Regions from separate parts of the Homo sapiens genome. Here region 2 is linked to region 1. Evidence: fine-mapped expression QTL. A gene starts in region 1. The other region holds a variant in brackets. All regions are shown on one strand. Distances are between the middles of the regions.

Region 1 (4,383 bases):
GCTACTGCACTCCAGCCTGGACAACAGCGTGAGACCCTGTCTCTTAGAAAAAAGAAAAGTGGCCAGGCGTGGTGGCTCACACCTGTAATCCCAACACTTTGGGAGGCCAAGGCAGCAGATCACCTGAGGTCAGGAGTTCGAGACCAGCCAGGCCAACATGGAGAAACCTCGTCTCTACTAAAAATAAAAAAATTAGCCAGGCATGGTGGCACGCACCTGTAATCCCAGCTACTCAGGAGGAAAAAGAAAAAAAGAAAAGAAAAATACTGTGAGGGTAGAACTCATGACTGATTAAAATGTGTAAAAAATTTAATAGAATGCTATTGTATAAAGATACTGTATTTAAGCCTCACACAACCCTGTGCCATAGGCCCAACTTTCGCTATTTTACAGATGTGAGCCTTGTCTAAGATTATTCGGTGAGGCAGTGCCTGAGCCAGAGTCCAAGAGTTCAAGTCCAGATCACACCACTACTTTACTACTGCCTCCAGCAAAGTTGCCACTAAGAGCATACAGTCCTAAAAACAAACGTTACTAGGGCACAATAGGAACACTACAGGCTTTCGACACTCACTTTTGGTTGGTCAGATACCGATCCCAGCCACGAATAATATTGCCATACATCTGAGTGTCTTCCAGGTAGCTTCCCTCAAAAGCATAGATCTGTCGCTCCAAATTTGCCAATGTTTCCTGAGAGATGAAAAACAAGGACATGAATGATACCTTTTAAATGCAAACACTTAAGTCTGGCCAAAATGAAATCCTGATATTAGACTCGTAAACGCAAGCTTGCCCACACTAAACCACCCTGTGGAGAGATGGAAGATACGGGGAGGAGGAGCCGTTTAGGACTAAGACAGTCTAGACCTTTGGGGGTGATGGACCCCTGAATGTATAAAGCATGTCTCCAGAAAAATACACACACACGCGAAATTTTGCATATACTTTAGAGGATTCACGGAAACCATGAGTCAAGAGCCCAGGCTAACGCAGAACTTGGGCGATGTCCACTCCCACGCACAAAAGGTATCGCTACCAGGAGAGGGAAAGGTGAGCAGCCTTTCAGCGTCAACTCGCTCCCCTCCCCGCAGGCTCAAGAGAGGCCGCCGACACCGGGCTGCCAGTTGCTATGGAAACCTAGAAGGGCAGCTTCAGGTGAGAGGGGCCTCCCGGGTGCCCAAGCCGAGACGCGGGGGCAGGAAGAGCTTAGCCACCAGAGTGCATTGGGCCTTGGGTGCCTGTCACAATTCTGAATTCTCCGGAATGTGTTCTTCTCCCTCGCCTGTCACCTTCTAGATGTTCCCAAACACATCACAACCCTGTCTATCAAAAACCTCCATTCAACGGATCTACTCCCAGTACCAAAAAGAACACGCTCCCCACCAGCCTCCAAAGTCCAGACGGGGTGACTGGGTCCCCCTCCCACACTAGCCTCCTTCCCCACCCCCTCCCCGCAAAGATCACGGACTAGCCCGCCTCGCCCACCCCCGCGGCTCACTGACGCTCGCCCTTCCTAGCGCCCTCTCCCCGGGCCCCGGCACCGTCCTCCCTCCACGCCCCCTCCTGCGGCTGCCGCTTCCCCTCCCCCTCCCGCGCTCCCGGCTCTCTCCCGGCTCCGGATTCGCACAGCCGGGAAGCTGAACCGCCGGCGGGCCGCAGAATGCGCACCCGGCCTCAGGCCGCCGAGCACCCGGCCCGCCGCGCCGCGCCCCCGGAGTAACAAACGGCCTAGCGCGGCCGGGCTTGGGGCCTGGAGGCGGGGCGGGCGCGGAGCCCCATGCCGTGCAACCCCTGTCCTAGCCCCTCACCGCCAGCTCCTGCTTCCGCTTCACGAGCTCCGCCAGCTCCCGCCGGGTGTCCGGGATCTGCGGCGGCGCCGCCTTGTTGTGCATCGCCATGTTGGGCTGAGGCGGGCGGCGGCGGCGCGAGGTTGGGGGCGGTCCCTGCGCCGCCAGGGGGCGCCCCCCCGCTCTGCGCCTGCGCGCGCGGCTTCCGGAGACGCGTGCAGCGCCGTGCCGAGCTTCGCTAAGGCCGGGGCTCTCGAAGGTCCTTCTCGGAGAGCTCTAGAGATGCGGCTTCTGCTTTCTGCCGTTTCCTGCCCCTCGGCTGGCCGCCGGCTTTACAGACGCCACAAATCCACCGCGTCCAAAGCCTAGCTCGTCCTCAGGCCTCCGAGTCTCCTGTGCGCCCCGCTTCAGTCCACTTCAGTGAATGACTTTCACTATCCACCGAATTGCCTGCGTCAGAAACGCGGTTTTCCTCACTCTGCACCTGGAGTAAAACGCGATCCCAGGTCAAGCTCTATGGACTCGACTCCGGAAGAGCTCGCGAATCCATTTGCTTGTGCCTGCGCCTTCTGCCACCTCACTAGTTCATTCAGGCCCTCCCTGTTTGGGGCTACATTATTCCAGCGGCTTATTTCCACCTTTAGCCCCACTTAATCCACTATCCACAGTGGTGCCAGGATCTTCCAGAAACAAATGTTATCACTCCCCGGTTTAAAGTCTTTCAGTGGCTTCCCATTTTCCCAGTGCCCTTTGGAGAAACAAGTATGTGTAGTGGTTAAGGGCACAAAACTGGAGCGAGAACTACCTTGTTCAAAATCCTATCGCTACATCGATAAAGTGTGCTCCTTTGGGCAAATAACCAAATCTCAACTCCCTCATCTGTAAAATACAAGCAGTAATAGAATCTACCTAATACATTTGCTGTGAGGAGTAAATCACCTAATATGTGTAAGGGGTTTGGCAGGCGCCAATGACTGTGCAAGTACGAGTTCGCTTTTATCGTTAAGTCCAAGGTGTAAACGTTGTTTTCACTTGGCCCCTGTGGATTTCTCCGTCCTCAGCTCTCCATCTTTCACTGTTCTGCAGTTTCGCTATCATAAGTCTAAGTGGGATATTTTTTCTTCCTTTTGTTTTGTTTCTTGCTTGGAAGTCTTTGGATTTCTATAATATGTGGGTTGGTATCTTCCACCAGTTTTGGGAAATCGCAGTCATTTTTCTTCAGATGCCTGTCTCATTTCTCTCTCCTTCTGGAACTCGAACATAAGAAGCTTTTTAACCTACCGTCTATATTTTCCATCTTTTTGTCCCTCTGTGCTGCATTCTGAATAACTGGTTTCGTGTGCGGATCTTGTAACCTGCCATCTTGCTGAACTCCCTTACTAATTTTAGGGGGGGTTGTATAGATTCCTTGGAATTTTTACATAGATAATAATTTCATCTGCAAATAAATAGGGAGTTTTTTTTTTTCTAAGCTGAGTGCTTTTTCTTTTTCTTCCTTATTGTGCAGATTTCCAGTAGTCTGTTAAATAAAAGTGATAACATTAGACATCCTTGCCTTGTTCCCTGTTTTAAGGGGAATGCAGGCCGGGCGCGGTGGCTCACGCCTGTAATCCCAGCACTTTGGGAGGCCGAGGCGGGTGAATCACAAGGTCGGGAGATCAAGACCATCCTGGCTAACACAGTGAAACCTCGTCTTTATTAAAAAATACAAAAAAAATTAGCCGGGCGTGGTGGTGGGCGCCTGTAGTCGCAGCTACTCGGAAGGCTGAGGCAGGAGAATGGCGTGAACCCGGGAGGCGGAGCTTGCAGTGAGCCAAGATCCCGCCACTGCACTCCAGCCTGGGCAAGAGCGAGACTCCGTCTCAAAAAAAAAAAGGGGGGGTGGCGAATGCATTCAGTCTCTCACCATTAAGTATGACATTAGTTGTGGGAGTTTTGTAGATGCTGTTTTTCAAGGTGAGGAAGTACCTCTATATTCCTAGTGTAAACCAAAAAACAAACAAGTAAAAAAACTTTTAAGCCACTGGGTGCGGTGGCTAAATCCCACCACTTTGGGAGGCCGAGGCGGGCGGATCACGAGGTCAGGAGTTCAAGACCAGCCTGACCAACATGGTGAAACCCCATCTCTACTAAAAATACAAAAAATTAGCCAGGTGTGGTGGTGTGCGCCTATAATCCCGTCTACTCAGGAGGCTGAGGCAGGAGAATCGCTTGAACCGGGGAGGCAGAGGATACAGTGAGCCGAGATCGCCACTGCACTCCAGCCTGGGTGAGAGAGTGAGACTCTGTCTCAAAAACAAAACAAAACAAAACAAAAAGCTGGCTGGGCGAGGTGGCTCACGCCTATAATCCCAGCATTTTGGGAGGCCAAGACAGGTGGATCACCTGAGGTCAGGAGTTGGAGACCAGCCTGACTAACATGGTGAAACCCCGTCTCTACTAACAATATAAAAAATTAGCCGGGCGTGGTGACAGGCACCTGTAATCCCTGTACTCAGGAGGCTGAGGCATGAAAATAGCTTGAACCCGGGAAGTGGAGGTTGCAGTGAGCCGAGATTGCGCCATTGCACTCCAGCCTGGGCAACAAGAGTGAAAC
Region 2 (4,355 bases), 110 kb after region 1:
TCTTATCGAGAGGCCAGGCACACACAGCTGTCTTGGTCTTCCTTCTTCCCTTCCCTACTCCCCCAGAATCAGTAAGGCAAAATGGTCTACACATTGTTTATATAACAATGATTTGCACCCAGAGTCTACACAGAACTTGATGTTTTACAAAGGTGTTAAAAATATATATCTATTGAGGTGGGTGGATCACCTGAGGTCAAGAGTTCAAGACCAGCCTGGCCAACATGACAAAACTTTGTCTCTACTAAAAATACAAAAATTAGCCAGGCATGGTGACACATGCCTGTAATCCCAGCTACTTGGGAGGCTGAGGCAGGAGAATCACTTGAACCCGGGAGGCGGAGGTTGCAGTAAGCCAAGATCGTGACACAGCACTCCAGCCTGGGTGACAGAGCAAGACTCCATCACAAAACAAAACAAAACAAAACAAAACAAAACAAAACAAAACAAAACTATATATATATACCTATTATCTCATGTAAGCCTTACTATCCTCCTATACATTGCATTTCAGCTTCCTGATTGCGATGACTATGGCTATTACATAACAAGTATTGACAAACAGCACAACCTTCATCCCTCCCTGCACCCCTGAGCCTGTCTCCACACCTCTCCCCACCCTTGCCTCTTACCATCAAGGATGTCTGTTACTCACATCACTTGGTAATGAAAACTGGCTCATGTGCTGCCACGGCTGTTAGATGTGGCCATATGAAAAGCGAGCAAGCACGTCAAAATTGGTGCAGGAGATTCGCCATCGCTAGGACCAGGCCCTTTCTGATGCCAAGTCTAGTACTTCTTTCCTTTTTAATACAACAGACTTGAACTCAGGTCCTGTGACCTCTGGTTTAGCCAGGCATGAGGCTCTGCATGGGTGAGGGTCAGCGTTAAGCACATGTACACATTGCATGAATGTGAATGGTTCCTCCCATTCTCTCTCTCTCTCTGTCTCTCTCTCTCTCTCATTTCGGAAATAGAGGAGACCGATTATAAACCGCTAAACCGCATCTGGCCCATGGAGTCCAAAATACTGGCCACAACAGATGAGAAGGGAGGAAAATCAAGGCCTTGCTGCTGATTAAACCTAACCGTCTCTAATTGTTTGTTAAGCCAGGGATTTTCAGCTTCACCAATTCTCTGAGCTTCTCTCCCTGGGCTGAGTCCTGGCCTTGGCTGCTCCCGTGGAGCCCCAGCAAAACCCCACTGCTTTTCAGCCTTCACTGGGGGGCCTCCGTCTGCAGGGAAACATGAAGCAAGAGGGAGCTGGGCTAGACTTCAGGAAGATCTCCTGCCTGTGGGTGTGGCATCTTCTCATGCGGGATGTCAAAAGACAGATGAGGACTTGGGACTCTGGAGTCCCCCACCATCTCCCTCGTGTGGGCCCCTCACACACAGTGGCCACCCCTACAGCACTGGGGCCCCATCACTGGAGACCTTAAGCAGAGGCTGAGGAGTGCCTATCAAGGGGCTAGGGACAGATTACCCTTGACCTCCATCAAATTCGGCTTTCAAGAAGACTGGGCCCACAGGCATTGGGAGACCTGGGTTCCAACATCAACTGTATCTCCTTAGACCTGTTTCTTCCCCTTTCTTAGCATCTGTACAATGATAGGATTTTGGTTTTCTTTTTAAGCTATGAGAACCCTCTCTTCCAACGACTTCTTATGTGGATGCTCATTACCAAAAGCAGGGAAAAGTGAGACTGCTCTGGTTTGAAGCGTGGTCGGGCCAGACCCCTGCCTGCTTGTCTCCCCTTCGATGCCACTGTAGCTCCCTGAATCCCACTAGGCATGGTTTAAAAGCCACAGCAGTGGACAGTCTCCTGACCCTCCCTACTCCACTGTTCCTGCCCTATGATCTGGGCAGGGGAAGCCCTGTTACCCAGTGCTAAGTTGTGCAGAGCTCCTAACCCAAAAGGGTTGATGGCTGCACTTTAGCCAAAAAAGGAGCCCCAGGGCAGGGGGATTGGGGAAGCATCTCCATGGATACCACACAAAGCTGGTGTTATGTCAAAGCACATAATCCACAAAGGCATAATCCACAAACTGGATCCTCACAAGAGAGGGGTTAATCTAGAAAGCAGAGTCTACAAAGGGGAAAACAGACAAAGTGAGTCATCTAC[A/G]GAGTGGGTAATCTCAGCAAATTAATCCACCAATTGAATAATCCACAAACAGGATCATCTACTGAGTGATCTACAAAGCTATAATAGATAGAGTGGAACTCTGCAAGGGTCATCATGGAATAAAACTCCTGAAGACCCCTAGTTCCTGGGTGGCCCCCTCCCATTCCCAAGGCCAGCTGTGGCCCACCATGCTCCATTACTCACTCCGCCTCTGCCTTTTCCCCTTGATCCCCCGGCTGCTGATGGTGAGGTGCGTCCAGCTCAGAACCAGGGCCACCACACACAGCCCAAGCCGCATAGTCACGCGCCAGCTCCAGGCCCCTGGTCGGAGGGGTGGTCTCGGGGAGGGTGGATAGCACACGGCTCTTGCTAACACCTCTGGGGCTGGGTCAGCAGCAGGAGGCCCAGGCCTGGGCCGTAGCCCAAATCCACCATAATCTCAGCTGGGGACAGAGAGGGTGTGGGGAGCCCAGTTCTCCATCAGCTCAAAGGGAGGTCCTCAAAGAGAGACTTCCTCAAAGATACCTCGGAATATCATATGAGAGATCTTTTTGTCACGTCAGCAGGGACTACTCCAAAAACCAACCTGTCAGGGAAGGAGAAAGAAGGGTTAATTCTGTAGTACCATGAACACTCCCACTTATGCCTCCTGCCCTACCCAGAAGACTGGGAGCTCAAAATGTTTGGACATTACAAGTTACCTACCTAGCACCTTTCTAGAAGAAATCTGCTCCTTTTCCTGTCTTACAGAATTCCCTAACCTGGGACCGGAGCCGGCAACCTGTGTAGCCAGAATATGGCAGACATTCAAACCAAACTTGTGGATCACTGATGATTTCTCAATAACGGGAGCCAGCTGGTCCCACCCCTGCTTCATGTTGTCCAGCTCTAACTGGAAGTCCTTCCTTAAGTCTACCCTACAGACCTCATGCTGCAGTAGTATCCTGTCTCTTGAAGAGGAGCTCTCTCTCTCTCTCTGTCCTTGCATGAGTGACCCCTCAGCCTTTTCTTCCCGGGGCTGAGTCACCCATGTGCCTTTCACCTGTCCTGGAGTTAGAGCAGTGGCCCCCGGCAAGCTGGCAGACCCTGCCTGGCCCTCTGGGCTTGGCGGGAGAAAAGGAAGTAAGGCTTCCCCCGGCCACAGAAACTCTGACACAGCAGGCCCGGCGGGCCTGGCCTTTGTGAGAGGATAAAAGAGGCAGCAATGCCCGCCCTGGCCAGAGACACAGAGAATGGGGATAATCCCCCAGCCCAGCGAGAGCCAGGTCTCTGGACCCGCTGGCCGGCTGGGGTGATGGGGGCAGGGGAGCCGGTCCCTCCCCTGATCAGATGTGTCTGGGAAGTTGGACATCTGAGCCCAACCTGGGAGTGAGAATGAAAACCCTGCTTCCCCGTCACGGGATCACACACATGCTCTGATGCTCTCAAGGTTCTTCCACAGCAGCGGCCTGCCCACGCACACCCCACACTCCCCCACACACACCCACACCACAACAGAGCATGCAGGCCAATAGCACAGAGTCTCTGTAGATGCCAGGGAGCCATCACCTTCCCCTCCAGTGGCTAGATGCCTTCGAACAAGTCATGTAGCCTCACTGAACCTGTTTCACATCTATAAAATGGGGACAAGCATGACTATGTCACAGGCTAGCTGAGAGTCAGAGAGTTCAGGCTCAGGAATGAGAAATCTGAGGTGCTGGAGTGGAGGTGCCCCTCCCACCCCCTGTCCTAATCCTTTCCCCTCTAGGCTCTTCAGTGCCAGTCCACCCCCTCGCCTGTCAGGGAGGCCCCAGCAGAGCCCACCTGCACGGGAGATAAATCATTATCCCCTAAGGGAGTTCAGTACCTCCCTCCTTGGCCTCTCCCGCTGGCTTTGAAGGCCAGACACACTCAAGTGGTTAAGCTGCCTGTGAGAAGTGTTTACATGAGGCTGATGGATCCCACCTGGTGCTGTGGCCTGAGCCAGAGGAGATGCCCCCAGCTACCCCCAAATGCCCGTCAGCTGCCAACCCCTGCACGCCCCTCCAGTACTCCCTGCCTGATTTACCAAAGCCTTTCTATCCTCCCCAGCCCCCACTACACAATTCTCTCACCCACAGATTATAGATGTCCAGTTGAGTTTATCAAACTGGGGTCTTCTGGCCCAAGTCTGTAGTCTCAGAGGCTGGCTGTACAGCATGATAGTCACGGGCATAAACTTCAGAGTCAGACTGCCTGGATTTGAATATTGGTT

Alleles and levels. Alleles are on the strand shown, and positions count from the first base shown. SD is a standard deviation of normalised expression in the study named.
In carriers of allele A in region 2, the expression in spleen of the gene that starts at base 1,918 in region 1 tends to be higher than with G alone (moderate effect, 0.70 SD a copy in GTEx).

The links. PIP is the estimated chance that this variant, and not a neighbour inherited with it, causes the effect. A credible set is the group of variants that fine-mapping cannot tell apart.
Region 2: its variant is the best candidate, but not a certain one, in a credible set for the expression of MEAF6 in spleen (GTEx, PIP 0.56).

The regions. Positions count from the first base shown.
Region 1 is chr1:37,512,849-37,517,231 of GRCh38, forward strand. MEAF6 (MYST/Esa1 associated factor 6) reads right to left here and starts at 1,918. Exons shown (of 7, transcript NM_001270875.3): 1 at 1,809-1,918; 2 at 575-690. The coding sequence starts at 1,898. RefSeq lists a silencer at 1,503-2,102.
Region 2 is chr1:37,627,242-37,631,596 of GRCh38, forward strand. It overlaps RSPO1 (R-spondin 1), which reads right to left. Exons shown (of 7, transcript NM_001242908.2): 3 at 2,327-2,708. The coding sequence starts at 2,420. Among named protein-coding and RNA genes, the nearest start is that of RSPO1, 5.5 kb to the right of the region's middle. RefSeq lists enhancers at 3,349-3,518, 3,420-3,933. The variant A/G (reference allele first, on the strand shown) is at 2,123.